3 separate regions of the Homo sapiens genome follow, and all the other regions are linked to region 2. Evidence: fine-mapped expression QTL. A gene starts in region 2. Each other region holds a variant in brackets. All regions are shown on one strand. Distances are from middle to middle.

Region 1 (10,715 bases), 46 kb before region 2:
GCTCTTCAGCAGCCCCCCAAAAATCACACTAGTTCACCAGCAATGGATCCAAACTGAGAAAAAAATCCCTGATTTACCTGAAAAATAATTCAGGAGGTTAGTTATTAAGCTAATCAGGGAGGCATCAGAGAAAGGCGAAGCCCAATACAAGGAAATCTAAGAAATGATGTTACCGGGGGATCCTTGCTCCCAGAGCTCCCAAGATGGTGGCAGGCCGCTTCCAAAATGGCAGCGGGCCACTTCCTAGATGGTGGCAAGCCTCATGTTCTCTCACCTGGGGTTCTTGGCCTCATGGATTCCAAGGAATGGAATCTTGGGCCATGCAGTGAGTGTTATAGCTCTATTAGAAGCCGTGGGTCATGGAAGAGAACCGTGGAACCCAGTGACTAGTGTTCAGCTCCATTAGGATGAACCTGGGCACTTAGCCATCCAGGAACAATGGCAAGCTTTTAGCCTGATCTGGAGTGGCAGTGGGCGCCTCGCTGGATCAGAAGCACAGCAGACACCCTGTCGGATCCGGAGGGATGGAAGTCAGCAGCAGGTCTGTGACGGCGGCAAACAGCAGTGGTGGACGGCAAGCAAAAGCTCAGCTCGAGTCGTAAAAAACACGGACCAGAAGAATGCAGTTGCAAGATTTAATAGAGTGAAATAGAATGAAAACAGAGCTCCCATACAAAGGGAGGGGACCCAAAGAGGGTAGCCGTTGCCAGCTCGAATGCCTGGGTTTATATCCTGATCACTGTCCCTCCCACTGTGTTCTCAGGTGATAAATGATTGGCTATTTCTTTATCTCCTGTTTTAGCCTAATTAGTGTTTTAGTGAGCTCTCTTTCCTACCTGATTGGTCGGGTGTGAGCTAAGTTGCAAGCCCCAGGTTTAAAGGTAAAAGCGGTCACCTTCCCAGCTAGGCTTAGGGATTCTTAGTTAGCCTAGGAAATCCAGCTAGTTCTGTCTCTCAATGACACAAGAAGTGAAGGGAGAAATATTCAAGAAACTAGGTAGCTTAAAGAAAAAACTGTCAAAAATTTAGGAAACTTTGGACACACTTTTAGAAATGTGAAATGCTCTGGAAAGTCTCAGCAATAGAATTGAAAAAGTAGAAGAAAGATTCAGAGCTAGAAGACAAGGTCTTTGAATTAACCCAATCCAACAAAGACAAAGAAAAAAGAATAAGAAAATATGAACAAAGCCTCCAAGAAGTCTGGAATTATATTAAACAAACAAACCTAAGAATAATTGGTATTCCTGAGGAAAAAGATAATTCTAAAAGCTTGGAAGACACATTTAGGGGAATAATCAAGGAAAATTTCCCCAGCCTTGCTGGAGACCTAGACATCCAAATACAAGATGCACAAAGAACACCTGGGAAATTCATCACAAAAAGATCATTGCCTGGGCACATTGTCATCAGGTTGTCCAAAGTTAAGGTGAAGGAAAGAATCTTAAGAGCTTTGAGACAGAAGCACCAGCTAACCTATAAAGGAAAACCTATCAGATTAACAGCAGATTTCTCAGCAGAAACCCTATAAGCTAGAAGGGATTGGGGCCCTATCTTCAGCCTCCTCAAACAAAATAATTATCAGTCAAGAATTTTGTATCCAGCAAAACTAAGCATCATATATGAAGGAAAGATATAGTCTTTCTCAGACAAGCAAATGCTGAGAGAATTCGCCATTACCAAGCCACCACTACAAGAACTGCTAAAAGGAGCTCTAAATCTTTAAACAAATCCTGGAAACACATCAAAACAGAACCTCTTTAAAGCATAAATCACACAGGACCTATAAAACAAAAATACAGGTTAAAAAAACAGAAAATACAGGTTAAAACACACACACAAAAACAAAAAACACCGGCAGCAAAGAGCATGATGAATGCAATGGTACCTCACATTTCAATACTAATGTTGAATGTAAATGGCTTAAACTCTCCACTTAAAAGATAAAGAACCACAGAATGGATAAGAACTCACCAACCAACTATCTGCTGGAGACTCACCTAACACAAAAGGACTTGCATAAACTTAAAGTAAAGGGGTGGAAAAAGGCATTTTATGCAAATAGATACCAAAACTGAGCAGGGGTAGCTATTCTTATATCCGACAAGACAAACTTTAAAGCAACAGCAGTTAAAAGAGACAAAGAGGGACCTTATATAATAGTAATATTCCTGTCCAACAGGAAAACATCACAATCCTAAACATATATGCACCTAACACTGAAGCTTCTAAATTTATAAAACAATTACTAATAGATCTAAGAAGTGAGATAGACAGCAACATAATAATAGTGGGAGACTTCAGTAATTCACTGACAGCACTAGAGAGGTCATCAAGAGAGAAAGTCAACAAAGAAACAATGGATTTAAACTACACCTTGGAACAAATGGACTTAAGAGATATATACAGAACATTTCATTCAACAACTTCAGAATACACATTCTATTCAGTAGCGCATAGAACTTTCTCCAAGATAGACCACATGATAGGCCATTAAGCAAGTCTCAATAAATTTAAGAAAACTGAAATTACATCAAGCATTCTCTCAGACCACAGTGGAATGAAACTGAAAATTAACTCCAAAAGGAACCTTCAAAACAATGCAAATACATGGAAATTAAATAAACTACTCCTGAAGGAGCATTGTGTCAAAAATGAAATCAAGATGGAATTTTTTTTTTCTTTTTGAGATGGAGTCTCGCTCTGTCGTCCAGGCTGGAGTGCAGTGGCGCTATCTCAGCTCACTGCAAGCTCTGCCTCCTGGGTTCATGCCATTCTCCTGCCTCAGCCTCCCCAGTAGCTGGGACTACAGGCACCCGCCACCACGCCCAGCTAATTTTTTGTATTTTTTAGTAGAGACGGGGTTTCACCATGTTAGCCAGGATGGTCTTGATCTCCTGACCTCATGATCTGCCTGCCTCAGCCTCCCAAGGTGCTGGGATTACAGGCATGAGCCACCATGCCCAGCCTCAAGATGGAAATTAAAAAATTATTTGAACTGAACAACAATAATGACAAAACCTACCAAAACCTCTGGGATATAGCAAAAGCAGTGCTAAGAGGAAAGTTCATAGCCCTAAACGCCTACAGCAAAAAGACTGAAAGAGCACAAACTGACACTATAAGGTCACACTTCAAGAAACTAGTGAAGCAAGAACAAACCAAACACAAACCCAGCAGAAGAAAGGAAATAACCAAGATCAGAGCAGAACTAAATGAAATTGAAACAAAAAGCAATACAAAAGATAAATGAAACAAAAACCTGGTTCTTTGAAAAGATAAATAAAATTCGTAGACCATTAGCAAGATTAACCAAGAAGAGAGAAAATGCAAATAACCTCACTAAGAAAAGAAACAGGAGATATTGCAACTGATGCCATCGAAATACAGAAGATCATTCAAGGCTACTATGAGCACCTTTAGGCACATAAATAGAAAACCTAGAAGAGATGGATAAATTCCTGGAAAAATACAAACCTCCTAGCTTAAATCAGGAATTAGATACCCTGAACAGACCAATAACAAGCAGCAACATTGAAATGGTAATTAAAAAATTACCAACAACAACAAAAAAAGTCCAGGACCAGACAGATTCACAGCAGAATTCCACCAGATATTCAAAGAAGAATTGGTACCAATCCTTTTGACACTATTCCACAAGATAGAGAAGGAAGGAATCCTCCAGAATTAATTCTATGAAGCCAGCATCACCCTAATACCAAAACCAGAAAAGGGCATAACCAAAAAAGAAAACTACAGACCAATATCCTTGATGAACATAGATGCTAAAATCCTTAACAAAATACTAGCTAACTGAATCCAACAACATATCAAAAAGACAATGCACAGTGATCAAGTGGGTTTCATACCAGGGATGCAGGGATGGTTTAACATACACAAGTCAATAAATATGGTACAGAATTAAAAACAAAAATCACATGATCATCTCAATAGATGCAGAAAAAGCATACATTATACTGAATGGGGAAAAGTTGAAAGCATTCCCTCTGAGAACTGGAACAAGACAAAGATGCCCACTGTCACCACTTCTCTTCAACATAGTACTGGAAGTCCTAGCCAGAGCAATCAGACAACAGAAAGAAATAAAGGGCATCCAAATCGATAAAGAGAAAGTCAAATTGTCACTATCTGCTGATGCTATGATTGTTTACCCCGAAAACCCTAAAGGCTCCTCCAGAAAGCTCCTAGAACTGATAAAATAATTCAGCCAAGTTTCCAGATACGAGATTAATGTACACAAATCAGTAGCTCTTCTATACACCAACAGTGACCAAGCAGAGAATCAAATCAAGAACTCAACCCCTTTTACAATAGCTGAAAAAAACAAAACAAAACTCAGGAATATACCTAACCAAGGAGTTGGAAGAGCTCTACAAGGAAAACTACAAAACACTGCTGAAAGAAATCATAGATGATACAAACAAATGGAAACACATCTCATGCTCATGAATAGGTAGAATCAATATTGTGAAAATGACCATACTGCCAAAAGCAATCTACAAATTCAGTGTAATCCCCCTCAAAATACTATCATCATTCTTCACAGAATTACAAAAAACAATTCTAAAATGCATATGGTACCAAAAAAGAGCCCACATAGCCAAAGCAAGACAAAGCAAAAAGAACAAATCTGGAGGCATCACACTACCTGATTTCAAACTATACTATAAAGCCATAGTCACCAAATCAGCATGATATTTGTATAAAAATAGGCACATAGACGAATGGAACAGAATAGAGAGCCCAGAAATAATCCCAAATACTTATAGCCAATTGATCTTTGACAAAACATACAAAAACATAAAGTGGGGAAAGGACATCCTTTTCAACAAATGATGCTGGGATAATTGGCTAGCCACATGTAGGAAAATGAAACTGGATCCTCATCTCTCACCTTATACAAAAATAAACTCAAGATGGATTAAGGACTTAAACCTAAGACCTGAAACTATAAAATTTCTAGAAGATAACATTGGAAAAAACCCTTCTAGACATTGGCTTAGGCAAGGATTTAATAACCAAGAACCCAAAAGCAAATGCAATAAAAACAAAGATAAATAGCTGGGAGCTAATTAAACTAAAGAGCTTTTGCACTGGAAAAGAACAGTCAGCA[T/G]AGTAAAGAGACAACCCACAGAGTGGGAGAAAATCTTCACAATCTATACATCTGACAAAGGACTAATATCCAGAATCTACAAATAACTCAAACAAATCAGTAAGAAAAAAAAATCCCATCAAAAAGTGGGCTAAGTACATGAATAGACAATTCTCAAAAGAATATACAGAAAAGGCCAACAAATGTATGAAAACTGCTCAACATCACTTATGATCAGGGAAATGGAAATCAAAACCACAATGCGATATCACCTTACTCCTGCAAGAGTGGTCATAATAAAAAAAATAAAAAAATAATAGATGTTGGCATGGATGAGGTGAACAGCGGACACTTCTACACTGCTGGTGGGAATGTAAACTAGTACAACCATTATGGAAAACAGTGTGGAGATTCCTTAAGGAACTAAAAGTAGAACTACTGTTTGATCCAGCAATCCCACTACTGGGTATCTACCCAGAGGAAAAGAAGTCATTATACAAAAAAGAAACTTGCACATGCATGTTTATAGTGCACAATTGACAATTGCAAAATTATGGAACCAACCCAAATGCCCATCAATCAACAAATGGATAAAAAAACTGTGGTATATATGATGGAATACTACTCAACCATAAAAAGGAATGAATTAACAGCATTTGCAGTGACATGGAGGAGATTGGAGACTATTACTCTAAGTGAAGTAACTCGAGAATGGAAAACCAAACATTGTATCTTCTCACTGATATGTGGGAGCTAAGCTATGAGGACACAAAGGCATAAGAATGATACAATGGACTTTAGGGACTTGAGGAGAAGAGTCAGAGGGGGGCAAGGGATAAAAGACTACAAATATGGTGCAGTGTATACTGCTCGGGTGGTGGGTGCACCAAAATCTCACAAATAACCACTAAAGAACTTACTTACGTAACCAAATACCACCTGTACCCCAATAACTTATGGAAACATAAAAAAAGTAAAAACTAAAAATAAAAATATTAACCTGATTAAATAAAAAAGAATGTCTACTACTGAGGAGCCATTCCCTCATGGTCTCAGTGTTCTGAGGTTTCTTCTTATTCCTGTAACTGAGAGCTGAATCCCTCAGGCCAGTTCACCATAGGACTCTCTGATGGAGAGGAGCAAGGAAGACTTGGAGTTGATAAAGCAGTGGCTATGTCCATTTCAGCTGTTACCCAATCAACCCTCCTTTCATGATGATCTTCTGAGAAACAAAATTCCTCTAGCCCCACTAGAGACTTTCAAGTAAATGTTTTATTTTCCAGATTATTTGTAATATCAAAATTTAACTATATAGACCTTGAAAAGCAGTAGCAAAATGAATAAATCCAAAAGAATAGCATTTAAACTACACATCTCAAGATGCTATACATTTATGTGAATAGTGCAAAAAATATTGTGTAAAACCTCTGTTAGAATTAGCTAGTATTGTTTTTTTGTTTTTGACCATCAAAAGACCAAGTGCCAAATGACTATTTTTGTGTCTGAAAATCAAATTTATCCCCAAATAATGAAAATATGATCATTTTCCAAAAAATAAAGTTTCAGAACAATGTATATGGTAAGATCCCATTTTGTAAAACCAAGTGCAAATATATTCAAGACACATTATTTTCCCATTTTAACGTAGAGGTGTTTTTCAAACCCAAAAAACTATGATTAAAATGGCAGTTCATCATATAATCACTGACATCTTAAAAATGAAAAATATTATAGATAATTTCAATGTTTCCAAGTACAGACATAGTTACTGTACTGCCCAATCTCACTTTATAGAAAAGGCTGGTTAAGGTAATTTCATAAAATATATAAATTCATAAACACCATTGCTGTCTCTCTTCTTTCTGAAATTTTTCACATGCTATTCCTCTACCAGTTTACCTGGAATACTTGCCCCTTCCTCTACCCACACCCCATTATTTACCTGCTAACTTTCATTTGTAAGGCAGTGTTCCCTAGACTAACTTAGGTTCTCCCGCTATGTGCTCTCATAGCACCCTTTACTTCCCCTCCTCAACACTCCTCATACATCATATGTATTTGTTTATGTCAAAATGTATACTCCATGAGGGCAGGGACAAAGTATGTCTTGTCCTCAGCCTTAGCCAGAGTGTTTATCAAGGTGCCCAGGATATGGAAGACATTCAATAAATATTCATTGGCTAAATGATTGAATGATTGATTGAATAAAGGTGAGTGAAAACACTGGCCTAGTTCCTGGTCAAACAGCAGGTTATCAATAAATATGCATTGAGAGAAGAAAGCAATGGAGAAATGGAGACTGACAATCAGAGTTGTGCTGAGATATAAAGGAATGAAGATAATGCATTCAACTGGATAATTCCCACCTTCTCAGAGAAGTAGGGCCTTAAGAATATACCAAGGTAAATGACATGCAACAAAAACAAATCATATGCAAATGAATGCTGATTTTTTTCAGATGTATTATATTTTCTTCCACTCCATCATTATTTTATGCATGCTTGATTTATCTGTATTTAAAACTCTATCAGTTCCACCACTTTTTAATATGATGACTATATTAAATCAAGGAACAAAGGGCACTAATGTTTTATTATTTTAAGATAAAACCTATTTTATGCATTAATCCTGTGAAAGATGAGCCAAGAGAGTATGGGAATAGGTAATTGTCTTTCTTCATTTGTATTTGTTTGTCTGTGCATCTTTGTTTTTATGTGTTCTGTATGTATTTTTATGGTTTTTGGTGAAAATAACTACCTCATTGGGTTTGAGTGGAGAATGTTATGCACATTTTAAGCATAACATCAAAATTTCATCTTTTTTTCCTTTATAATTCTTGAGTTGCCAAGGTTTTCTCTGATAATTTTCTGATATTTTCCCTATCATCACAGAGGGACGATTTCTTTATCCCTAACTCAGAAAAAGCATTAGGCCTAGCCTTGAAATGAAGGTTTTCATAATATTTAATCTTTTTTTTTCTTCCTTTTGCTGCAACTTAAGTCCCATTATCCCTAGTCCTATCCTTGTTGACTAATGAGGATAATTGGTCCCTTTCCTCCTGGAAACATTCTTTTATGTATTTTGGAGAGTTATTATGGCCCTTCAGTTCTCTCTTCTCTAGGCAGAACAGGCCTTATTCTCTTAACCTTTCCTCACAGAGCTGATTTTCCAAACCTTTGATCATTTTTGTTCTTCCCCTCTGAACTCTCTCCAATTTGTCTGTCTCTTTAAAAACGTGGTGACCAGGAGAAAATTCAATCCTTCAGTTGAATCTTAACCAATGTGGTATTAACCCGGCCAATGCTTAGTGGATATGGAATAGAATCTTAAATATTATTTATCCAAATTCTGATATGTAAGTTCCCTTTATTTAAAACATAATAGAAACTAGGAATTTATTTTGGCACTCGGTGTTCCTTAGATAATCCATGATAGTGTACCATCGATTTGAAAAGCAGGGAGCCATCAAACAATAGTGAACAGAACTTGAGTTACAGATATAGGATAACATTTTTGGAGTAGATAGTAGATGATCTTCCTAAAGGAAGGGAAATAGAGCTTTTCAAATACAAAGAGAGATTTCCACACTATTTTGTCATTTTGCTCTGTTGTATAGTATCTAATGTTTGTAAAATAATTCATTCTATGTTGGTGTTCCCTTGAAAATGTTCTGGGAATACATTTTTACAACAACTCAAGTTGGTATAAGGCTTATTTATTGTTTCGTATCTCAGCTTAACATTATACTAACAGTTACTAAAAACTAGAGTCCACCAACTAGTTGGACAAGAAGAGATAGAGTTGTTCCACTGAAACTTGAGGAGAAATTAAGGAATGGTTTAGATGAGGATTTGTTTTAGATATGTTACATCATTTAAAAACTATGGGCCAGGCATGGTGGCTCATGCCTGTAATCCTAGCACTTCGGGAGGCCGAGGTGGATGGATTACCTGAGGTCAGGAGTTCAAGACCAGCTGGCCAACATGGCGAAACCCCATCTCTACTAAAAATGTAAAAATTAGCCAGGTGTGGTAGTGGAGATGCCTATAATCCCAGCTACTCGGGAGGCTGAGGCAGGAGAATCGTTTGAGTCTGGGGAGTGGAGGTTGCAGCAAGGAGAAATGGTGCCATTGCACTCCAGCCTGGGTAAAATAGCGAAACTCCGTCTTAAACAACAACAGCAACAAAACAAACAAACAAAATAAACGACTATGGAAAATACAAAAAGACATATAAGATATCAACTCTTGCTTTGGCAGAGTTTTAAAACTTGCAGATGAGACAAGACCAAGAAGCCTGAAACACCAGTGAAGCCATTTAATGCTTCACTGAGTGGTACTAAGTGTAAATGAAATGGAAATTCAGAGAAATGAGAGGTCGGCATAGGCTTGAGCAATAATGAAGATATGGCTTTGTAGAAGGGATGAACTTAAAATGAGCTTTGAAAAATAGATATCAGAGAAGAAAGGAGCGAGAAAAGGAGGAAAAAAGGCAAGAAAAGAGAAAGGACTATGATGGATCCAGAGAACAGAAAAGAAACTAACTTGGCTGGAGTAGAGAAATGAGGAATTGTTAGAAATAAGTACAGTGGGTGATTCTTATGAGTGCTTTGAAAGCCAGGCAGGTACGTATGAATTCAATGTGGTGGGCAGCTGGGGACAACTGAAGCATTGATGACAGTTACTATTTGGGGAGATTAGTCTGGTGGCAGCCTTCTGTGTGATGGAGTATAGGAGCAGGACAAAGCAACTCTGAGCGTTCTAATCATGACGAAGATCTTCGGGCTGTCAGACTTGTTTTGTCTTTTTTTTTTTTTTTTTTTTTTTTTAATATTTGGGCCCGATTGTTCTCCTTTTGCTATATTGCAAGGTGACTTTCATACAAATCAAAGAAAGACTCAGTTAAACATTTTAGCCCTGATCTATCAATACTTGTATTTGAAACAACTTAGAGACCCAGAAAGACCATTTAAGGGTAGATATTAGCAGAGAGATTCAACTTTAAATGCTTAACTCTGATATCACTCTTTTGGGAAGGGTTTGGGGAGGAAGAGAGGTGAGGAGATGCAATTAGTGTGACCACTAGATGTCACTGTTGCTAGGTTGCCTCAAGGTTAGATGCACAGTATTCAGTGGGCTTACAATGGAACTTTTTCAGTTCAGGAGAAAAATTTAAAATCTCTAATACTTGCAGCCAAAATGCTTCCCAACTCAGCTCTCCTCCACATCCAATCTCTGCCCGGGAGGCAAATTCAAGCTACTTACCTGAGGGTATGTTATAATTTTAAAAATAATCAGGCTGCTGTTTTTGCATTTTTGCTTCTTAATACAATTCGTTACACTGGGTTCGTAACAATTCGTTAGCACTGGGTTTTCTGAGGTACTGTAGGCAGGGCTGTGCTATTGCTTCTTTTTTTTTTTTCCTTTTTGAGACAGAGTCTTGCTCTGTCGCCCAGGCTGGAGTGCAGTGGCGCGATCTCGGCTCACTGCAAGCTCCGCCTCCCAGGTTCACGCCATTCTTCTGCCTCAGCCTCCCCAGTAGCTGGGACTACAGGCGCCCATCACCACGCCCGGCTAATTTTTTGTATTTTTAGTAGAGACGGGGT
Region 2 (10,715 bases):
TATCATTTGGAAATAAACCAAAAATCTTATTAGGTTGGAATTAAGTGGAAAATAGTTTTTCCCTCTGGGGATTTTTAATTTATTCAGAATATTTATATAATTGCCTACTAGTGAATCCTTTGAGATTTACTTTGTTGGGGATGCTCTTTAACTCCAAACACATTTTTCTTGAGGGCAAGGGGATATTATAATTAATTTCAGCATGGGAGGAAACCTTTTTTCTATTTATCCTGTTACCCTTCACACCCACTTTCCCTCTTCTCTCTCCCTAGATAAGCTCACTGTTGATTTAAATGGGCTCCTAAACATTTTAGCTTGGGCCTAGTTAGTTCAGCCTCATAAACACATGGGAAGAAGTTTGAACCTACATGGGGAATTAAATAGTTTTCCTAACTCAGATGAACCACCTCTGAATGCTAGATCCAAGTCAGTGTGCCTAGCCCTCTATTGGGAGACAAAGGCCATTCAGTTGCATTGCCAAAACCAGTGACCAACAACTTGTGCTATTTTTGAAAGCCTTTGCTACTTTTGCAATCATAACTCCTATCTTTTCATCCCACCCTAGTTCCAAGAAATGTGCTTTTTCTATACAAATATCAAATTGAATATTTCAGAGCTGTTACCTTAAGTTATTAAACGGCCTTAGTGCCCCAGCTCAAAGATAACTGCAGCTCCATTGTAATAAAATGATTACTCAGGTCTACCTCCACAAAATGTTTGACTTAACCAGTTTTGTTGTGTTTGAGATTTCTGGGATGAAAAGTACTCTAAATGGATCATGATAAGAGTGAATTGCTCAGAGCATTTTTCACTGGACAGATAAAAAAAGATAATGGATAAAGCAGTGCAAATAAAAAGAAAAATAAACCTCACCCCCAAAACTGGACTTTTAAAGAATGAGTATTCTACTGATAAAGTCAAAGTGCTTTTTATACCAAGTATGCCTATACAATGCTAGCATCATATTAAGGGGTCCTTTATTTACCTGAATTATGCACATCCAATTGATGTGTACAATGTTTTATATAAATGAAAGTTTCCATATTAAAAATATCTTAAGTTCGTAAATTAAATATTTTCAACTGCACTGAATTTTCTGAGTTTCAAGCCCAAAAGAAAAGGTGTTCTACTGTTGGCACTTCTATGAGTAAACAGATCTCCAGATAGGCTACATGGAGAAAGTTGAGTAAATGCTGTTATTAAGATTTTCTGCTACCCCACCCCCTTCTGCGGCTCTCTCCCTGCACACTCAGTGGCACTCTTTTCAGCCCATAGTAGTGAATGACCGAAAGCTTCCCAAGCACCTCATCTAACTAAAGGAGGGCCTGCTTCTTCACAAATGTCTAGGAAAGGCGGCCGGGGGCGGTGGCTCACATCTGTAATGCTAGCCCTCTGGGAGGCCAAGTTGTGTGGATTCCTTGAGGTCAGGAGTTCGAGACCAGCCTGACCAACATGGCGAAACCCTGCCTCTACTAAAAGTACAAAAATTAGCCGGGCGTGGTGGCAGATGCCTGTAATCCCAGCTACTCAGGAGGCTGAGGCAAGAGAATCGCTTGAACCCAGGAGGCAGAGGTTGCAGTGAGCCAAGATCATGCCACTGCACTCCAGCCTGAGCAACAAAGCAAGACTCTGTCCAAATAATAATAATAATAATAATGATAATAATAATAATAATAATAATAATAAAAGGCTAGGAAAGGAGAGTCATCCTTGATGCCTTCCAGTCACCCCAGGTGGGGACACTGAAGGAGCGCCTTACACCTAAGAATTGAGGGATAGGACAGGGGGCACCAAGAAAAAGGTGACCCAGAAAAAGGTGAGCCGGTGGGAGGAGGAAGGAAAAGTATGAATGTACAAGAAGGAAAGGAAAGGGCATGGGAATTGAGAGAAAGATGTATTGGAAGTACAGAGAAAGAAAGCCACCTGGAAGTGAACTCTAACACTAAGGACCAGTTGGTGTCTGGCCAGTGACTGAGCTTGGGGTTTGCCATTTGCGCAATGTTGCTCGAGGACACTGGGTGGCGCTCGTGGTAAAGACTTGCACTTATCTTAGGGCTTCCCTCCCGCTACTTCCCCTTCCCTCCCTTTGCAGATTTCAGCTACTAAAAGATGAAATTACTTACATTCTTCCTACGTGTCTCAGCGGGAAGCGCACTGCTGGAAGAGTTTGATGCCGTGGGGCTGTTTCTCCACGGCTGGATTTGTCGGTGGATTTTGAGAGGCAATAGCGTCCAGCCCGCTGGCCTTAGGACAAAGCTGGAGGCCCTAGTGTGAGAACTCCCTCACAACACCAGCAAAAGTTTGCTGCTCCGAGAGCCGGGATACTGGCCGGTGTATGTCCTGAGCGTGGGTCCGAAGCCGCAGACAGGCCCGCAGAGCAGCCGGCAGTGCACAGAGCTACAATGCCTATATTGTGAAATTAAATAAAACTGTACTGTGAACAGACTCTCCGCTGCTTTTAACTTAGTGCTTCCTCTCCCTCCCGGCTGCCTTTAAGGAAGGGGTGGAGTGGGGAGTGGGGTCAACCTTGAAAAGAGGAACAAAATCAAGAAAGTTGAGGCTCTGGACCTGTAGAGACACATCCAGATTTGGTCTCACCCAGCAGCAGAATGGCTCAAGTCTGCGTGAGGGCCAACGTTCTAACGCTTTAGGAACCGAAACAAAGAAGTTAAATTCTTCCCTCCCGGCCCACTCCTTTTTGTCTTTTATGAAATGTGGGAAAGAATGTCCATTTTGACTGCGGGGTTTTGGGGGGGTGAAATTTAGCAAGGTCTAGAACTAATTTGACATTGTAACATTATTTTCAATCGGATCCCGAACTTCTAAATTTTGCCCCAATTCTGCAGCTTCCAATCCCATCCTGGTTAGAATCTGCCATCTCAGCAAGGTGTAAGGGCATTGCTAGGAACACCCTGTTCAGTATAACCATGTGGTAACTCAAATCTCTATTTAACCAAAAGTGTCGAAGATAGGGGACCAGAGGAAGGGAGGCCTGGCTCCCTGCCCACTTGTCTTTGCCGGGAGGTGCTTTGAACTGTCCTTGGCATTGATCTGAGGAAGCGATTTCTGTAATTAAATGGCAGTGTGTATCAGGTGACTCGATGGGCGCCGATAACTTCTCCAGAGCAGAGCCCAGGACCGCAGACCCATGTTTCCCTCCTGTTCTTTAGCTCCTCACAGCCTACATCTAGACGGTTAACAGCCTGTCGGTAATCGACAGCGTCAAGTCAGGGCTGGCTGGCAGCTGCAGCTCTGTTTACCCCGAAGTCTATCTCAGAGAAGCCCGCGGCAGCCCAGGCCCAAAGCTCGTGACTCGGGCCAGTGGGAGAAGGAGAATGCTGCTGGGCGCCAGTCTCCCGGTGCTGAAGTTTCCCCCGAAAGGAAGTGCGACAATAGCTGTGTTTTTCTGGTGCAGTCCAGACCGCAAAGGCAGGGAGTTGGTGCACGCACGGCAGCTCTGCTTTGGAGTTCCTGAGCGGGGCTGTATCTTGCTCTGAGTTCCAGACACCCTACCTCTACCCGTCGGCCTGTTTTAGGCCGAGTGGCTCCACACTCCAAGTAAGGCTAAACTAATACTAGACACAACTAACACAGACGCTTTCTTCTTCGGTAGGAGGGAAAACGGAGGGGAGGCCAGATAACCCTAGATAGCCTGTGGAACTCCCAGATTGCCGGTCTTGGACCCCGTAAAGGAAGATGTAGGAAGGCCCCAAATCAGGATCTAGTCCGCGGAGTTGCCTATTTGAGGGGAGTAACAATGGGGATTGGGAGAGACTTTTATGCTGAATTTCTAAACTCCCAGCTGAATCACGACTAGAACAAGGATAGCACCTCCTGAAGAGCAAAGTTTAGATCTCGTGTATCAACTGAATGATTCTTGAATCCTTTCTTCCCTTGCATACGAGCTAAGTAGGATGTCTTTGCAGCAGGAAATAAAGGGGAGAGGGTACAGAAACCCGGGTCTGGGAAATGGAGAGACTGGGCCACATTCATGGAGCCAGGAGGGGGAAATCAATGAGCATCATCTGACTTTGCAAAGGCTTTGATCCTTGTCTCCTTCCCCACTTCCGAGACTTTCCCATTCTTTCCTGGAGGTATGGCAGGTTATACATGGATCCATTCACCTTTGCGGGAGTCTTTGGCCACTGAACATAGTTAAAGAGCCTTTATTCCAATGTCTTGAAAATAGATGAAAATATTAAACAGAAGTGGAGCTGTTTGGCTCTTTTTGCAAGCCAGCAACGAGGATTTGGGCTTCCTTAAGTTATATGTGTTTAAGACAGTAATTTTTAAAAGTCATTATAAGGACTTTGGGCTGCAGGAACTCTCCCTGCCATTCACCGGCTTAATGGACATTGTGCCTTCTTGGGCATTCCTGTCCAGCCCGCGTCCGGGAGATACTCATCTCCTGCAAAGGAAGTTGCCTCTTTCCCCAAAGAGCAAATTTTCAAAACATGTAAGTTACAACTTGCTTCCCAACACTCCACTAAAAAAAAAAAAAATGCTGTTTCCCTTCCTTCTTGCCTCCATCCTACATCCCCCCGCTCCCCACTCCCTGCACCTTGACTCCCTATTTCAGTATCAGTGTTTAATTCTACACTCGCCTTTGGTGCAGCCCACGGGGGCGGGGTAGTGGGAAGCAAGGAAAGATGGTCGCCCACCTCATTCCCAAAACATGTGCACTTTTGAGGCTTCTGATTGGAACACATTGTCCCCAGACATCACAGAGCCTTGTGCTGTGGCTTCTGCGATGTCTTTGGAATTTACTAAAAACAGATAGACTAAGACCCCTCCCCACTCCACAACAAGCAAAAACACACACAAGCGCGCGGGCGCGCACACACACAAACACACACACCCCCTCAGTACCCCCCACCCCCTTTTTAAGCAATGCTTTGTTGTGCTAAAACTAGTTGGACGAGTTAGGGTGTTACTGTTGCTCCCGAGGCCCTGGCCAATAGAACCAGATCCACCCCGCTGTGCGTAAGCGCGCAATTAAGGATTTAACCAAGGCTGTGCTGCGCCTCAGCCAGCAGTCAGCCGGCCGGAGACAGAGACTTCACGACTCCCAGTCTCCTCCTCGCCGCGGCCGCCGCCTCCTCCTTCTCTCCTCCTCCTCTTCCTCCTCCTCCCTCGCTCCCACAGCCATGTCTGCTTAGACCAGAGCAGCCCCACAGCCAACTAGGGCAGCTGCCGCCGCCACAACAGCAAGGACAGCCGCTGCCGCCGCCCGTGAGCGATGACAGGAGTGTTTGACAGAAGGGTCCCCAGCATCCGATCCGGCGACTTCCAAGCTCCGTTCCAGACGTCCGCAGCTATGCACCATCCGTCTCAGGAATCGCCAACTTTGCCCGAGTCTTCAGCTACCGATTCTGACTACTACAGCCCTACGGGGGGAGCCCCGCACGGCTACTGCTCTCCTACCTCGGCTTCCTATGGCAAAGCTCTCAACCCCTACCAGTATCAGTATCACGGCGTGAACGGCTCCGCCGGGAGCTACCCAGCCAAAGCTTATGCCGACTATAGCTACGCTAGCTCCTACCACCAGTACGGCGGCGCCTACAACCGCGTCCCAAGCGCCACCAACCAGCCAGGTACATGGACAGGGGGAAGGCTGGGCAGATACAGGGCGACTAGGACGCTGGGGGCGCGAGATGGGGTGGTAGATTGGGGGTCACAGCGGTTCACGGCAGTGGGGGCGCACGCGGCAGAAGGGAGTAGGACTCAGACCCTCCAACAAAGAGAGTTTCTCGGGCCAGCATTTTAGGGATTTTTAGTAGGAGAGCCCTGTGGAGGTTCGAACTAGCGTCTCTCCCCTCCGGCACCTTCCAAGGCCCTTCAGTCGCTGAATTCCCAGCTTGCCCGGCCAGGAAGCCGGCTAGGCTGGAAAGGGGATAGGGGTGGAGAGAAGAAAGAATCAAGCAGCTCCTGGCGTTTGCGTAACAAAGAGAAGGTTACTTGGGAATTTTGGTAAGCGTGCTGGGTTGGTGCGAGTGGGAATAGAAGGCTGCCTCAAAAACTCAGTCAGGATTAGTTTGAGAGCCGCCACAAGCTAGCACGGTGCGGGTGCCCTGAGCACGCTGGGTGGGGGTGGGGGGGTTAAGGAGTTGTAGCCAGCCAGAGAAGAGCGCGCCGAGAGTTTTGCGGTTTATCCAGGCATTTCCAAAAACAAAAAGCCATTTAAAGGTGGAGGAGGGTTGCTGAGGGGTCACGTTGTAGGATAGATTTTTTTTTCTGTCTCCATAGGCGCCCACAATTTGTCTTTCCGTCCTCCTTTTTCGTCCGCTTTGAAACTTACTTAGAGAGTTTAAGAGGGTTAGTGAGCTTGGGCGGTAAGAGAAAGGCATGAGGCTCGGCGGAGAGGTTTTATTGGTAAGGTTTGATCTCTTCCCACCAGCACATTAATAATCCTGCTAATATTAGCATCCCCTACTCTGGCAGAATTGAGACCACAGCCCTCATCCTCCACACTTCTCCCTGGAACTTGACACACACACACACACACACACACACACACACACACACCCTGGAGAGGTTCTCCGTCAGTTCCAGAGGGGTGGTAGTTTTGAGGAAGGGGAGTTGTAGCCCCAGGGCAGGTTTGTACAACACGCGTTTGGCAATCCCTCCCCCTCCCGCCCAAACCCATACTCATGACAGTGAGAATCTCATCCTGACCTGCCGCCCCTTTCCTACGAAAACACCCCACCACCGGTTCCTTCTCAGTGTGTGACTCTTGCTGAACTTTAAAAGAGAGCCCCGGGTTGAGGTGTCTACGTTTCTTTCACTCTCTCTGTATTCCGTGCATAAGTGGAAGATTTCTTTTTTTTTTTTTTTTTTTTGCCAAGAACATATTAAGTCTATTTGTAAAAGAAACCAGACACATCTGTGCCCTCGCAGATCTGCAGCGAGATTATGGGGGTTGCATAATCGACCCTCTGTCTGCGGCGGCCCCGACCGCTTGCTGCTGAAGTGAAGGAGCAGTTTGCTTGTGGGTCTTTGAACTTTGGAGACCTCGGTTAGCGTCTTCCCTGCCCAAGAGTCTGGCTTCTGCGGGCGCCCGAACAGACGCCGACAGAAGTAGGGTCACGGCCCAGGGCCACCTCCTTGAAGCCTGGGGAGGGGCTGGTGTTCTTGAAGCCTGGGGAGGGGCGGAAACGCGGAGGAGCACAGGGTGGGCGTAAAAACAAGTCCGGGAGAAGAAGCAACGACCGCAAGAGCTGAATCCCAGATGCCAAGGAGAAAGCAGTGTTGTAGGAAGCGCTTTGCACAAACTATCTGAATGAACAGAGTAGGAATTAATCAGAGGCTATCCCGCTTTTCCATATTTGGGGTAGGTGCATATTTATCGCGGTCCTGAAAAGCAAAGGTGGTGGTGATATGGGCAAAGAATGAAGACTGAGTGGTAAGAAACTCTAGGACTCTATTTGAGGCCCTTCCGCAAAAGGGGCATTGTCTGGTGACAAGCTTTAACTGAGTCTGTTTTGATTATTTAGAGAAAGAAGTGACCGAGCCCGAGGTGAGAATGGTGAATGGCAAACCAAAGAAAGTTCGTAAACCCAGGACTATTTATTCCAGCTTTCAGCTGGCCGCATTACAGAGAAGGTTTCAGAAGACTCAGTACCTCGCCTTGCCGGAACGCGCCGAGCTGGCCGCCTCGCTGGGATTGACACAAACACAGGTAAATACGGCGCTGCCATGCACTAGACCTGCCTGAGCTGCACGTCTGGTTGGGTCGCGCGGTTCAGTCTCGATGGGACTGGAGCTGTTTTGACAGTACCCGTGAGAAACTAACAGACCCAAAGACATCAGCCCCTATGCTTTAACTCGGTGAGTCAGGCCTTGAGACGGTGGGGATGGTATTCATCAGCGGTCTGGAGATACCTCCCACTAACCGCGCCCCCCGCCCCCACCCCGTAGCGGGCCTCCGGAGCTGTGGGGCCAATTTCGCGGGTTGAAAGCAAGCGGAGGGTTATTTCTAGGGCGGCCTAGGCAGCCCAGAGCAGCTATCTGGTTTTCTTAACAATGTAGAGCCTCCTCGGGGGTGAGCAAGGCCTGGTGTTCTCGCGGTGGTCTCAGGCTAAGAAAAGGCTGAGAACGTCGCCTGGAGCGGAGAAACTGAAGGGTCGTGCCCTGAGCCTACGGGAGCTTCAGGCCACGGCCACCGAAGGGTCGCGAGGTGGGGGGCGCTATTGTACGTGAGAAGTCTTCCTGGATTGTCCCATTCCTTTTACTCCTCCAACCCAGCTGGGGCCTACGGAAGCATAAAGAATGTTCGAGTCGCCGCCAAGAGCTGCAGTCAGATTCTGGCCTCTCTGAGCTGCAGAGGGAGTGAAGGGAGTAGGACGGGAGGTTGGGAGCTCGCTCCTTTTTCTGACCACAGGCGCGCGTAGCCCGCCCCACGCCCCTTCCCCGCCGGGCTCGCGCGATTGTTTTGGAGACCTTCGCCGCGTTCCGCGCGTCCTGCGCAGGCTTACACGAGGCGCGCCGCCGCCGAGGACACTCGGGCGCACACCCGCCGCGCTGGCGTCCCCCACCCCCAGCCCAAACAAAAGACAAGCCTTGGGGTCGTGGCCTCGCTGGGCCGGGGCGCCCCGAGCCGGCCAGGGCGCCCTCTGGGGCCAGAGCTCCATGGTTTGCCTAAGGCATAGCTTCTTGGCGGTAGGCCGCAAGCGGCGGGGAGACGCCAGGCAGGGCTGGGCCGCCCAGAGGTCCGAAGATGCCTCCAGTCGCCGCCCCGGGGAAGGCGCGGGCGACCTCTGAGTGTCCCGGTAACGTGTGCCTTTGTTCCCCAACTCAGGTGAAAATCTGGTTTCAGAACAAAAGATCCAAGATCAAGAAGATCATGAAAAACGGGGAGATGCCCCCGGAGCACAGTCCCAGCTCCAGCGACCCAATGGCGTGTAACTCGCCGCAGTCTCCAGCGGTGTGGGAGCCCCAGGGCTCGTCCCGCTCGCTCAGCCACCACCCTCATGCCCACCCTCCGACCTCCAACCAGTCCCCAGCGTCCAGCTACCTGGAGAACTCTGCATCCTGGTACACAAGTGCAGCCAGCTCAATCAATTCCCACCTGCCGCCGCCGGGCTCCTTACAGCACCCGCTGGCGCTGGCCTCCGGGACACTCTATTAGATGGGCTGCTCTCTCTTACTCTCTTTTTTGGGACTACTGTGTTTTGCTGTTCTAGAAAATCATAAAGAAAGGAATTCATATGGGGAAGTTCGGAAAACTGAAAAAGATTCATGTGTAAAGCTTTTTTTTGCATGTAAGTTATTGCATTTCAAAAGACCCCCCCTTTTTTTACAGAGGACTTTTTTTGCGCAACTGTGGACACTTTCAATGGTGCCTTGAAATCTATGACCTCAACTTTTCAAAAGACTTTTTTCAATGTTATTTTAGCCATGTAAATAAGTGTAGATAGAGGAATTAAACTGTATATTCTGGATAAATAAAATTATTTCGACCATGAAAAGCGGAATGTTTCTGAAAAATACTTCATTCTGCCCCTCTGATAACTGGCTAGTGAAGTTTTATTGAAGGCAACTAAAGAAGGACAAGCTCTGCAGAGATCCAACAAGGCAAAAAAGAAAACAGAAGTCGGGGCTCTATGCATGCAGACTGTATATGTATATATGTTCAATGCTATACTTTGTGTGTGTGTGTGCATATATATATATAATATATATGGCATGTTTATAGTACTGCCATATCTCATAATTGTTTCAGGTAGAAAGTAATGCTGAAATAAAAATACATCCCTCTCACCCTGTATGTGAGTTAGAAGGCAACAGAAATCCCTCAATAACCCCTCTGAATTCTAAGCTCAAAGCAATTATCTTGGAGAAGCGCCCCCACCCATCAGCCTCTGTGTAGTGCCAGAGCAATTAGACAAATTACCCTTCAAAGGGAGTTTCCAGAGATGAGAAAATGAAAAAGAAATCTAGCCTCACACCTATTACATTTTTTAAAAATCTAAAATGTTTGGAGCATGGCAAATGATAGAACCTTGGACTCTTTGGAGTATGATTATAAATGTATCGGCTCTTTTCGAGAGATGAAAACATTGCAGATATTGTGAAGAGGGAACTTCAGGGTTGGGGAAAGGAAGGAATGAAAGCATTGTGGCGCCGTGTTGATTTCATTTTGTGTGAGATAATACTCTTAATATTTCCCTTCCCGCCTTCCTTTTTTCAGGAAGGAGCTTCCTCTGTTTTGCTTTTACATAAAACAGTGGCAAACAGGTTCTAAATGATGCAAAATAGAATCTGTTTACTAGGATTTCTCCTTTGGGAAGCCTTCTTTGGGACAGAGAGGAAGGACTTGCTGCAGCTGTGCCCTGTGTCCCTTCCTTCTTCTTGCACTCCTGCATGTAGATACCAACAGCATGACCAGAGCTATGCACTGCACCTAAAGACCCAGGCCTGAATTGTAGGTGTCTTTCTGTCTGGCCGTCCTTCAGTGGGCCAGACTCTCTTTCCTTAGGATACGAAGGAAAATGTTGGGTTGGAAATTACAAGATGCATGTGAAATATTTTACAGCTAGGAAGTCAGCAGCAATAAATGTGACAAAAGAGCCTTCTTAAAGTGGGGGTAGATTAGAGCATAAAAAATTATATCCTGTCACTGAGGATTTCTCAGAAGGCTCTTCCAGGGTTGGGAGACTAGACCTGAAAAGGCACGCTATGTGCCTTGAGGGGAATTTACCTTACCTACATGTTTC
Region 3 (10,715 bases), 29 kb after region 2:
TCCCCTCAAATCCTCTCTCTTTTTTCTCTTTTAACAAGCATAGGACCCCACTCCTAATACAAAAACACTCCTCTTTCTCTAAGCCCAGGAAAAAAAGGACTCAACAATGTTTAAACACTTAGAATAAAACAAGTTAAATGCTGATGTCTGTCTTTTCAATCTGTAGGCTATGCTAAGGTTGAGCTCTCCATATTTGCCCTGATGGGAAATATATCAGAGCAAAGGGAGAAGGGAGGGGGTGTTAGAAGTCAGCTTTAAGCAAGCCAGTCTTTGGAAAGCAGGGACCCCTGACCATTGGAGGATAAATACAGCCTTATAGTGGTAGGGAACAAGTATCAACAGGAAACAGTAGACTATTTTTAGGCATAATAAGGAGTTAATATAGCTGTCTTCCTAAATGCCTCCAAGCATCTTCTGTTTAATTCCTTCATCGCTTCATCAGCAGTAACAATAGCAAGGTCACAGAAAATGCCTAACATTAAAGGACAGCCCTGCTTGGGACAACTCTTCAGGAAAACCTGGGATGAAAACATCCCCTTGCTATCATGTTGGTCCTCTTGTTATAACAGAAAAATAAATGAAAACCGTTTTTCATGAGAAAGAGAGAGGGTGAGTTTGTTCTGTATCTGTCTACTCTTGTGATATATATGAACTGGTGACTTTTATACTCATACCTGTTCATAAATACTCCTTATCTCCTTTATTTGGGAATATCCCAATAAATGGAAATGTAATTTATTAGCTTTTTAGTAAAACTTTTTTAGAGGGCAACAAATTTGAATGCCCTTAGAAGCTAAGGTTGTTTTTGTTTTTTCACATTCCATTCTCCCAACTGTGCCCATTCATTCTCTCTCTCTTTCTTTCTCTCTTTTTTCTTGTTCAGAAAAGAGACTCCTTTAAAGCGCGCGCGCGCGCGCGCACACACACACACACGCATCTAGGAGAAAGAGAGCCCCCTTCCCACTACCCTGGGAATGGAATAATTACTGGTTTTTTTTTTTCCTGGCAGGTTTTACAAATTTTGTGCAGAGAGCCAAAATGCTCCTCATCCCTTGCACTCTGCTGAGTGGGGCCCTTCCCCGACAGAGCTCAAAGCCTCCAATTCTTTAAATACACATTGAGAGGTTGCGTCCATTTTGCTGGTTCATATTTGGATTCACTGTCTTTACTCGCACATACTTTGTGCGGAGGGAAGGAGAGAATGGGACAAAAGCAGGGGACATAGAAAGAGAGTTAGAAAAAGAATATAAGAGAGTGGACAAAAGAGTTTGAGTATGAGTCGGCTTCCTTTTGTGTTTAAGTTTTCTACCTGGTCCTGTTTGCTAGGTACCATTGCCCTACAATGCTAATTGCACAACAAATGAACAAAATGAGAGCTGATAAAAGCAGCCCTGTTACCTGCAGATCTACGCCATGTATATTTCCTCTAGGGCCAGGAGGTGGAGATGGGGGTGGGGGTAGGGCTGGAGGTGGGGGGCCTAGACTCCCCCAAACCAAGCTCTTCACTAGTCTTCTACCCCTTTCTCCTCCCCATTTCCTAACCTGCTTTCCCCTCAGACAGACTGGGCATCACGCTGCCCACTCTAACAGCTGCTAAGTCGAAGCAGGAGAACCCTTCAAAAAACACTACACAAGAGGTCACCCTCCCAGACAAAACGAGCCACTTTAAGAACGATGCTCAGGGGGCTCAAAAGTCTGGGGCCCAAGAGTTTAAAAAGCAAGGGTAGCGTTTCAGGATATCAGTTCAGCAGTCTCAAATGACAGGCAGGAATCCTGGGCTCTCCATGGGGCTGGGATGAAGGAAGGGAGGAGGGACAGGAGCCAGGAGGCCCGGCAGAAGCAGAGGGCGACTGAACGCTCGCACCGCAGCTGGCTCCCACGAGCTGCCGTCTGCAGGGAACCAGGGGCCCGATAATGGAATTCAGGAGGCAGAGATCCTCCAAGAACCAGCCACTGTCTTGTACAGATTTGTAGAGAAACCCTCACTGTAATTAAAACCGTACAGTCAGATTAATTCAATGTGTTGCTCGGCAGCGTTTTTAATAGTAAAAATCCACTTTAAAATTGAATTAAGTTCGAAGAAAATTTCTGCGAGATTCGCCGGATTTGCCAGCTTTCATTGAAGCCAGCCTGGGCTGGACTTAGGTGGTGGATGCATATGGTAGTGTCGCCCCCCTCCCCCAAACCTCACCACCCCCGACTGGGGAGGTAGATATGGGGATGCAGATATGGGGATGCGGGGGCTGATCAGCACGGGGTGCCAGTTTGGCCGCTGGGCTGGGTCTAGGGCCTGGGGTTAACTCTTCTGATCTCAGGCTATGCACAGATTTTTGACACCCAGGATAACCCTCCCTTACCACCCTCTCTGTGAAGTTCACTGCTCGGGAAAGGCGGGGCAGGGGTAGAGAAAGAATAGAGCCCCACTGTATCTTGAAGCAATTTCCCACTGTGTGTTGCCGCGGGAGCTGGAGGTTGGAGCCCTCTCTGGCCGCTTGAGTGACAGACAGGAGAAAGTTGTGGTTCTCCCACGTGCCCCCCACCCCCTTCTTGAAAACCTTCCAAAAATTAAGAGCATTATTTCAAGCGCACTGTCAAAATGTCTCCCAAGCTTTGATTTGGCTGGCCGCCCCTTTTTTTTTCCTCCCCTCCCCACTCCACATCCTTTGCGTTTCGCGTGGTCGTGAAAGAAAGGTTAGTATTATTATGCTTTTCCTTTTAAAGGTTGGACACCTGGGAGCTGAAAACTTGCTCCAAAGTTCCTGCGAGACGTGGCAACTGAGTACTAACTGAGAGGCTCTCACTTGAGAGGGGCTTAGGGGTTAGGGTAGAGAGCTGCACCGGGGTCTTTCTGGAGGCCAAAGGAGTTTTTAGGGTTCTAGGCTCTCTCCTCCCCCACGGATCCGGCCATTGCTGTGGGCTCCTGGGTTGCTGAATGCTCACGCGCGTGTACACACACACACGCAAGTACACACACACACACAACCTAGGACGCAAATTCTCTAACGAGTTAGTCACATCATCAAGCCTGGGAAAACAAAAACCGCTGTGGGTCCCTGTTCCTCCGGCAACAGCGCGCAGACGCTTTAATTGCCGCAAATTGTCACTCTGTCCCCTTTTCATTTTCTCGCTCCTTCGTTTATTTTTAGTACACTTCAAATGCCTACACATTTCCCTAGTAAGGAGAGCGCGGAGCAATTATTGCCTTTGCCTTCAGGGCCTGCTTTGCCAATCACTGAATGGGGATGGAGTAAACAGGGCGAAAAGCGAGGTGCGTTATTGGTTTTGCCTATTTCAGTTGATGACCGCAAATAACTCTCCCTACCGCTCCACCCCTCCTTCTTTGCTGGGTCCCAATTATCTGGAAGAAAGGAGATGCGCCCCCCTCCCTCCTGCTCCCCATCACACCCCACCCCATGTGCGCCAAGTTTTGCTCGAATCCAGCAAATCCCGTCAGAATTGGCTGGTTCCTCAGAGAGTAGTTAGGAAGAGAATTCCACAGGGACCCAACTCTTAATTCTGTATTGAATAGAAAGACCCATCATAGCAGGCACTTTTCCTACCCCTACGCGGGAGCATAGGGTCTTTTTTCTTTGAGGGCTACTTGGGAAATAGAGGCCCCCAGGCAGGTGATAGAGAGGCCCCAGAGGCCCCTTCTCCATCAAGGCAAGCTTTTAGAGTGGTTTGGAGCAGTTCGGACTGTCTGTTAGAACGGCTATCAATTGACATGGCTGTTGTTCTCAATATTAGGCAGGAATTCTTAAAGGAGAACTTTACATTTCACGGTGAAGTGTTGTCTTGAATACTACTGAGGTCCGTTCCGCACCCTATGGTTTCTTTTCTCTGCTTTCATGGGACAAGCAGAGCAGTCTGGGATGGGGAGGGAGGCAGGTGTCCGCTGCAGCAGCCAAGGGGGAGGCATCAGGCGTCCTGCAGATGGATCCGAAACAAATCAGTGCGGGATTAACTTGTGTGTCCGCTCAATTGTCCCCAACTGCAAAAGCAGCTTGGGCCACGCTTGCCGGGTCGGGTTTGAGTTACTTACTTGTCCTGGGCACGCGGTCTTGGCCCTGCCCCGGCCGGGGCTGCCTGGGACCTGGGACCCGGGACCTGTCAGGCTCCAAGTCCAGCTGGTAGGACGTTTTAAAGGAAGGCAGTGAATATAAACTACTTCATACCCCCCTTCTCTTCTCTCTCTCTGACACACACACACACACACACACACACACACACACCTCGTATTTCTTTTTTATGAAAACATTTACCAAAAAACTAATTTCAGATCGTGGAAGTAAATTTCATGCTAGAATATATTTTACAAAACATGTAATCTTTCGAGGCCGGAAGATGTTTAATTAAAACCATACTTGACAAGTTGAGTTTCAAAGCGAATTCACACCAGTGCGGAAGGCTAATTCATATTCAAGATGTAGCCTGTAATTCAAGTTGTTTGAAAACGCCGGCCGGGGCAACGTGCAGCTAGCTCTGCTTGCTACCTGCCCAAGCGCCGGTGGACTCCAGAATCCTGCGCTTGGAACAGCCGCCACCTCCCCACCCCCAACCCCGCCCCCGCCACGCTCAGCTGTCAGCTGCCCTCCGGTGCACAGGCTTGGGTTAGCTCCCAGGAGAGAGAGGGAGAGAGTAGGAGAGGAAGAGAGACAGAGAGAGAGAGAGAGAGAGATCCCAGGAGAGAGAGGGAGAGAGTAGGAGAGGAAGAGAGACAGAGAGAGAGAGAGAGAGAGAGAGAGGGAGGGAGGGAGGGGGAGAGGGAGAGAGAGGGAGAGAGGGGAAAGCTTCCTGGAGCACATTTAGTGTCATTAAAATAACTCCCGCAAGGCGGGGGTGTGGGGGCTAGGCACGCGGGACCCACTGGGGGAGCAAGTAGGGGCAGATGGAAAAGATACCTTCTGGAGGCTTAGTGGGACTGATGAGGGTCCCCAGCCTCCTAGCCTCCTTCTTGCCTCCTGGCTGACCCATGCTAGAGGAAAGGGAATCCCCTGAAGCTACCTCTAATTCTAATGACCCCAAACATGGGGGGTGGGATGGGGGATTGTTCCGCCCATCTGATTTGTGGGCACAGCTCTGAATCCTCAGGAAAAGGCAGACTCTGCACTGTAGACTGCATGTCTGCAGTCATTGTCCTCAATAATTTCCCTCTTTAACCTCCTTTGCTGTTTCCTATTAATTTGACCAGTCTTAAATCAGAGGGGCTTTGCTACATGGGAAGGAAATGCTCCCAGCTCAGTGTGTGAATATATGTATATAGTTTTTTAATCAACTAGCCTTGCTGGCATAGGGTGCTGAGGGCCAGCCGTGACAGTGGGGAATGAGAAGGAGCCAATGGGAAGTCAGCACAAATGTGAGACAAAGAGACTTTGCAGGGCAGTCTAGGTGGGAGTTGAAGATGCCTGTGAACAGCAGCTCCAGAGCCTGAAGTTGTGGCCAATGATGGGTTCCTGGTCACTGTCCAGAGCCCACACTGCAGTGTCCCTCTCTAGACCCCCCAGCCTGCTGATCTTTCCTTCTTCAGAGATGACAGAGAGTTGTCATCAAAGTTAGCCTTATGGATGATCTGAAACCTGCCTTAGGAAGAGACCAGGACATGAATTTGAGACTTATGTTCGTTCAATTTTACCTAAAATGGTCAAGAAGAAAAATTTCTTTGTTTATTCCAGCCACTTATAGGACAAGGAAAGATAATTTTGCTTTAATTGAGGATTGTGACAATTATTGATTGGCTAATGGACTTTTTTATGGTCTATATTTCCTTTCAAACACACCATTATCCTATTCCTTAAAGCACAAAGAGAAGTCTATTATAAGAAAAAGTGTTCTGAA[A/T]TCCAAAGTGTTCAAGAAGTATTTTAGACAACATGGCTATCTCATTTTGCAGCCTTATATAATTGAAGCCAACACTCTTTTGATTTTATTGGGCCAGTTTAGAGAAAGCTTACCTTTTTCAAAGACAATCCGAAAACACTATTGTGAGAAAGTTTGTTGTTCTATACAGAAACTACCAGCTGGCATTTCTGAAGGTTCGGTAGGTATCTCCTTATTTGAAAATAGACGTGGCTATTGGAAGCTATATGCTTACACGATATGTGACATAATACTCATTGGTCAAATAATATTGATTTTAGATGAGCAGGTAAGACCTTGAGGTCACTTTTTAGTGTCTTGCATTTTGGAGGGCTGGGGTGGGGCTCTGGTTCACATTCTCAAAAAAGAAACAAAAAGCCATGTTATAATCATAGGCCTGGAGGGTGACAAAGACCTAGAGACAAACAGAGGCATTGCTGAGGTGCTTTTAAGCATGACATTGTTTAAGCTGAGTACTAAAATGTATGTACTTGACCAAATGCATTTGAAGCCTAATCCTACATCAGAGACTTGTGAATTACACAAAAGGGGAGAGGAACTGCAAATGACAATCCCCACATGTTTTATTTCAGTAAGAACAAATGGTTTTCTTGTCACAGGGTATGAGCACTCTTAGGGACGCTGGAGGCCCATGTGTAGGCAGCAATTCTGGCAGGAATATATAGTGAGAAGAATACAAGGTGGTTGGTTGGTAACAGTCAGAATGGTGCTTCAGGAAGGGCAGGGAGCAGCCTTGGTGTGCAGAAGGGGCAGGATGGGTAATAGTTCCCAGCTGGCCCACCCTTTCTATAGCCCCAGAGAATCTCATCTTTCCAGCCTCAGAGCATGGGTGGAGACAAGAGGCCTAGCCATGGTGGTGATTCATGCCACTTCTCTACCTTTCTCTTTTCTGCCCTTCTAAAATTAGCAGCATTTCACAGAGGAGGGAGCTAACACATGGCCCTCACCCCACAGACCACTTTGGTGTCTGGGAAAGGGAGAGAGATGGAATACAGGTGTTCTAGTTTCCATCTCCCTGGCCACCAGGTGTGGCTGGGGATGAGGTGGAGAAAGGGTGGGTTTGGGTTGCTTTCTCAGTTTGGGTTGCTTTCTCAAGCCAGGCCTGCACAGGTAATGTTTCTGCTTTTGAGGCTCCTCTGGTTAATGAAGTAGGTGTGATTTTCATGTGACAGGTAAGGCTCAGAGAGATTCAGCTTTGGCCCTAGCCTCAGGGCTCCGAAGGCAGCAGTCCCAGGATTCCTTGACTTCCCGCCAGAGCTCTTTAAACAGCCCCCTCTCTCCGGCCTTCTAACTTTTTCTTAAATTCTGAATACTTTAACCCTTGCTTGTAGTAATGTAGTTGTAGTTCTAAACCGTGTCAGTTTCCTACAGACATCTTCCGTGTCTAGGCGAGAATCAATACTAAAACACTTTTTTATTTTTAAAGTGGGTTTTAAAGGCCTATTGTGGGGAAACCGAGATGTCAATGTGACCTGGAGGCGCAGTAGGAGCAAGATTCCATTGGCGGCCGGCCGCGGCACAGCCTGGGCTGCGCCGGAGTTGGCTCACGTGCGAGCCTTATCATGCAAATCCGACGGCTCGGGCATGCGCACTGCATCCCTCAGGTACCCGCCTTCGTCTGGTAGTAGGGACTAAGACTTCCAGATGCGCAATAATTAGGTTTCCTCATTAAACAAAGGTTTCCCCATCATTCCCTCCTCCCACCGTTCTCAGCGTGGGAGCTCCTCACCAAAGCAAGCTGCTTACCCGTCTCCCCCAGCCCCACCTTCCAGTCCCAGCTCTCCAGCCACCACCCGTACTTCATCTTAGGGTCCATTTAGGGCCCTCTGCATTCCTCGCCATCATTTTTTTTCTTTTGACCTCCTATACAGGATATTAAATTCGAATTTTCCCCTCGTTTTAGGTCCGCTTCCTCACCTCTCCTTCCCAAAGATAAAAAATTCCCTACCGATCGATCGATCCTGGGTGGGAAGAGGGCGTCAACACCGCCGCTCCCTCAGCCTCGGCCCACTCCGCCCCTCCCTGGCCGTTTCGGTTTCATGCAGAAGTGCTGAACTTGGGTGTCCCAGGAACTCGATGGGCATTAAAGCTAGTCGCCAGCCAAACCCAATCCCCCCTACCTCCAGGCATCAGCCTAGGCCGCTAAGAAGCCCAATGCGGGCATCTGTAGCCCCTCGACCACCCCCAATCCCAGTGTGGGGGGCGCTGCTCTTCGATTCTCAGCCCCCACCTCGGGAATAAGCGTACTACACAGGGAAGGGCCCCAGGAGTGTCCTCTAAACTCCTCCAGGACACCCTGTGCGGGCATGGGGACCTCAGGGATCCATCTCCTCGGAGCAGGAGAATGTCCTTTTCTGGAAAGAAATCTCAGTAGGCGAGAAATAGGCAAGGTTATATTCGAAGCCTCCCGCGGGAAAGCTCGGTGGCAAGGTTCGCAGTTGAGCCTGACCCGCGCGCGGCGTCGCGGCGAGGACCGCGCCCACACGCGCTCCTGGAATCACAGTTAGCTCTTTCTTCCTGGTAGAAACAGGCATCGCTGCTCCGGCTTTCAGTTACTCTCAGCTTACCTGCAGGGCGAACCGATTTGTATTTTTCCACCAGAAACCTCCTGTCCCGAATACCCCCAAACTCCCCCTTCCCCCTCATCCAGCCTTAACCAGGAGAAGGGAGAGATAGGGGTTTGATTCTCTGATATGACACGAATAATTGTCGCATCATGTAGCTTCCTACATCTTGGTTTTAATTTTCAGTGAACCAAACAAAGATATTTGCAATTTTAAAATAAGCACTCGATTTAATAAATGGGAACATTGTGCAGGGAAGACTGTGCTCCCCCCGCCCCCCAGCCCCTTCAGAAGACGTTATTAGCTCTGACAGCATGCCGCTCAGGTTTGCGGAGAGGATTTTGTAAAGGGATGACAGACAGGAAGGCCAGCAATCATGGGCTCCTTGGGCTGAAGCTTTTTTTCTTTCTTTCTTTCTTTTTCTTTCTTTTTTTTTTTTTTTATCAGAATGTTCTGTTCGATGCCATTTATCCTTGATGATAGAAAATTGCGCTGTTGCCAGGACGCTGCTGCTGCCGCTGAAATAGAGGGCAGGAGCCACATTTCCATTTTCCGGCTTGAAAGCTATTCAAATGAATTTGCAGGGGGGTGGGGGGAAATCTGGCGATAAACAAATGAGAATAAATCGAGTTCCCCTTTCCATTCTTTTCTTTAAATGGGTAGCTCTTCATTTCCTATATAAAGATTTTTGTTCATCAGTGTTTGTGAATATCTGGGAGATAGTGTAAGCCAACGCACAATTTATTTTGATGCTCTTAAAGTGACTAACCACATAAACATTTAAAAAGAAGTGCATGTCTAAATATATATAAAGTATAAGAATTATATATACATAGATCATGTACATAACATACCTTCACACAATTCCAAACTACAATGAAAGATAAACTCTTTCAGTAGCGTTTCAATTCAATATAATTTGCAAGCACTGCTGGCTATTGATAGTTATGGACTTCTTACTAGTTGTGTATATACAAGTATTGCTAGATGGAATAATTTTTAAGGCCCTCCTCCCATGTTATGTATTTCAGGATACTATATAATTTAATTACCCTTAGATCTTTACTAATTTAAAAACATTTATTTCTGTAAAGATATATAGATATACAGATAGATATAGATAAGTTATCCTCTATTATGTGTCTCTTTTAAGTTAATTTTCCAAATTTACCTTTTAAGTTTTGTTTCTAAGTTAGGAAATATAAGAGTTGGTGTGCTGTGACTTTAAAAATATGAAATAGAGGCTGAAGCCTGTGCTTCCCTTCCTCAAAACTTAGATTCTTTGCAAGTTGAAAAAGATCATGTATTGAACTCAAGGGATCACATCCAAAACAGGACATTTAAAAATGAGATCTTAAAAAAAACAGCCTATAACACACATACTCTATTTCTCTCTCTCTCTCTCTCTCTATATATATGTATATGTATATTCTGTCTGTCTGTCTCTCTTTTCTCTCCCTGTCTCTCTCTCTCTCCCTCCCTCTCTTTCTTTTTAAAATAAGCTCAGGTAGATCTAATCTAATCCATTTCCAAGGCCTGAATTCTTAACTTTAGAAATCCCAGATTTGATCTCCATACAGAATCCTGTACAGAACTGGTGAGTTGATTTCTGGACTTGGATACCTCATAGATATTACATATTAAATAAAGATCCAACCCTAAAATCTGGGTTTGCTTCTTCCTTGACATATATATGTATATGTATATATATGTGTGTGTGTGTGTGTGTGTACATATATATGTGTGTACATATATATGTACACACGCACATACACACATTAGCAATGTCTTGACAGAAGCTATAAAACTTACGAGGCCCTCACTGTGTTTTAATAATTAAATAACTTTTATTGAATTATAACACTAACGTTTTGTTTCAAAGTTATACAGGCTGTTAGGAAATTTTCAATGATATAAAGGCCTTTAAGACGCAACGACTAATTGTATTCGAGATTTCAGATAGTAGTTCAAGCTTCAAAAAAATCCAACATTTTAAAACTTCACATTTTTTAAACGAATCATGGGTCCCTCACTACTATGATTTTAGCTACATGACTGTTTCCCCGTGATAGGACACCGCTGGGCAAACCAGGGCTGCACAGACAATAATAGTATAAAATTAGAAAGAGAAAGGCAGAGGGTGAGTTGTTATTGATGTTCCGAACTTCTCCAATAGAATGTTCAGGCGACTTCTTCCAGACAGCCACAATTCCTAGTTACAGATTCCGAACAATCCTTGTTATGGATTCCAAACAATCTTAGTTCAGCTGAAAATTT

Which allele goes with the higher level. Positions count from the first base shown, and alleles are read on the strand shown. Sizes are in standard deviations (SD) of each study's normalised expression.
With allele G in place of T in region 1, the expression in tibial nerve of the gene that starts at base 5,032 in region 2 is higher (small effect, 0.28 SD a copy in GTEx).
In carriers of allele A in region 3, the expression in skeletal muscle of the gene that starts at base 5,032 in region 2 tends to be higher than with T alone (small effect, 0.31 SD a copy in GTEx).

The links. PIP is the estimated chance that this variant, and not a neighbour inherited with it, causes the effect. A credible set is the group of variants that fine-mapping cannot tell apart.
Region 1: its variant is the best candidate, but not a certain one, in a credible set for the expression of DLX5 in tibial nerve (GTEx, PIP 0.66).
Region 3: its variant is the best candidate, but not a certain one, in a credible set for the expression of DLX5 in skeletal muscle (GTEx, PIP 0.56).

Annotation. Positions count from the first base shown.
Region 1 is chr7:97,064,650-97,075,364 of GRCh38, reverse strand. No RefSeq gene overlaps it. Among named protein-coding and RNA genes, the nearest start is that of DLX5, 45 kb to the right of the region's middle. The variant T/G (reference allele first, on the strand shown) is at 5,132.
Region 2 is chr7:97,019,148-97,029,862 of GRCh38, reverse strand. DLX5 (distal-less homeobox 5) reads left to right here and starts at 5,032. Exons shown (of 3, transcript NM_005221.6): 1 at 5,032-5,594; 2 at 7,494-7,678; 3 at 8,798-9,467. The coding sequence starts at 5,240. The coding sequence ends at 9,127. RefSeq lists enhancers at 2,090-2,289, 3,368-3,883, 4,810-5,526, 7,721-8,920.
Region 3 is chr7:96,990,066-97,000,780 of GRCh38, reverse strand. The region is part of intron 1 of DLX6-AS1 (DLX6 antisense RNA 1); the gene reads left to right. Among named protein-coding and RNA genes, the nearest start is that of DLX6, 10 kb to the left of the region's middle. RefSeq lists enhancers at 1,565-2,508, 7,262-7,788, 7,789-8,314. The variant A/T (reference allele first, on the strand shown) is at 5,836.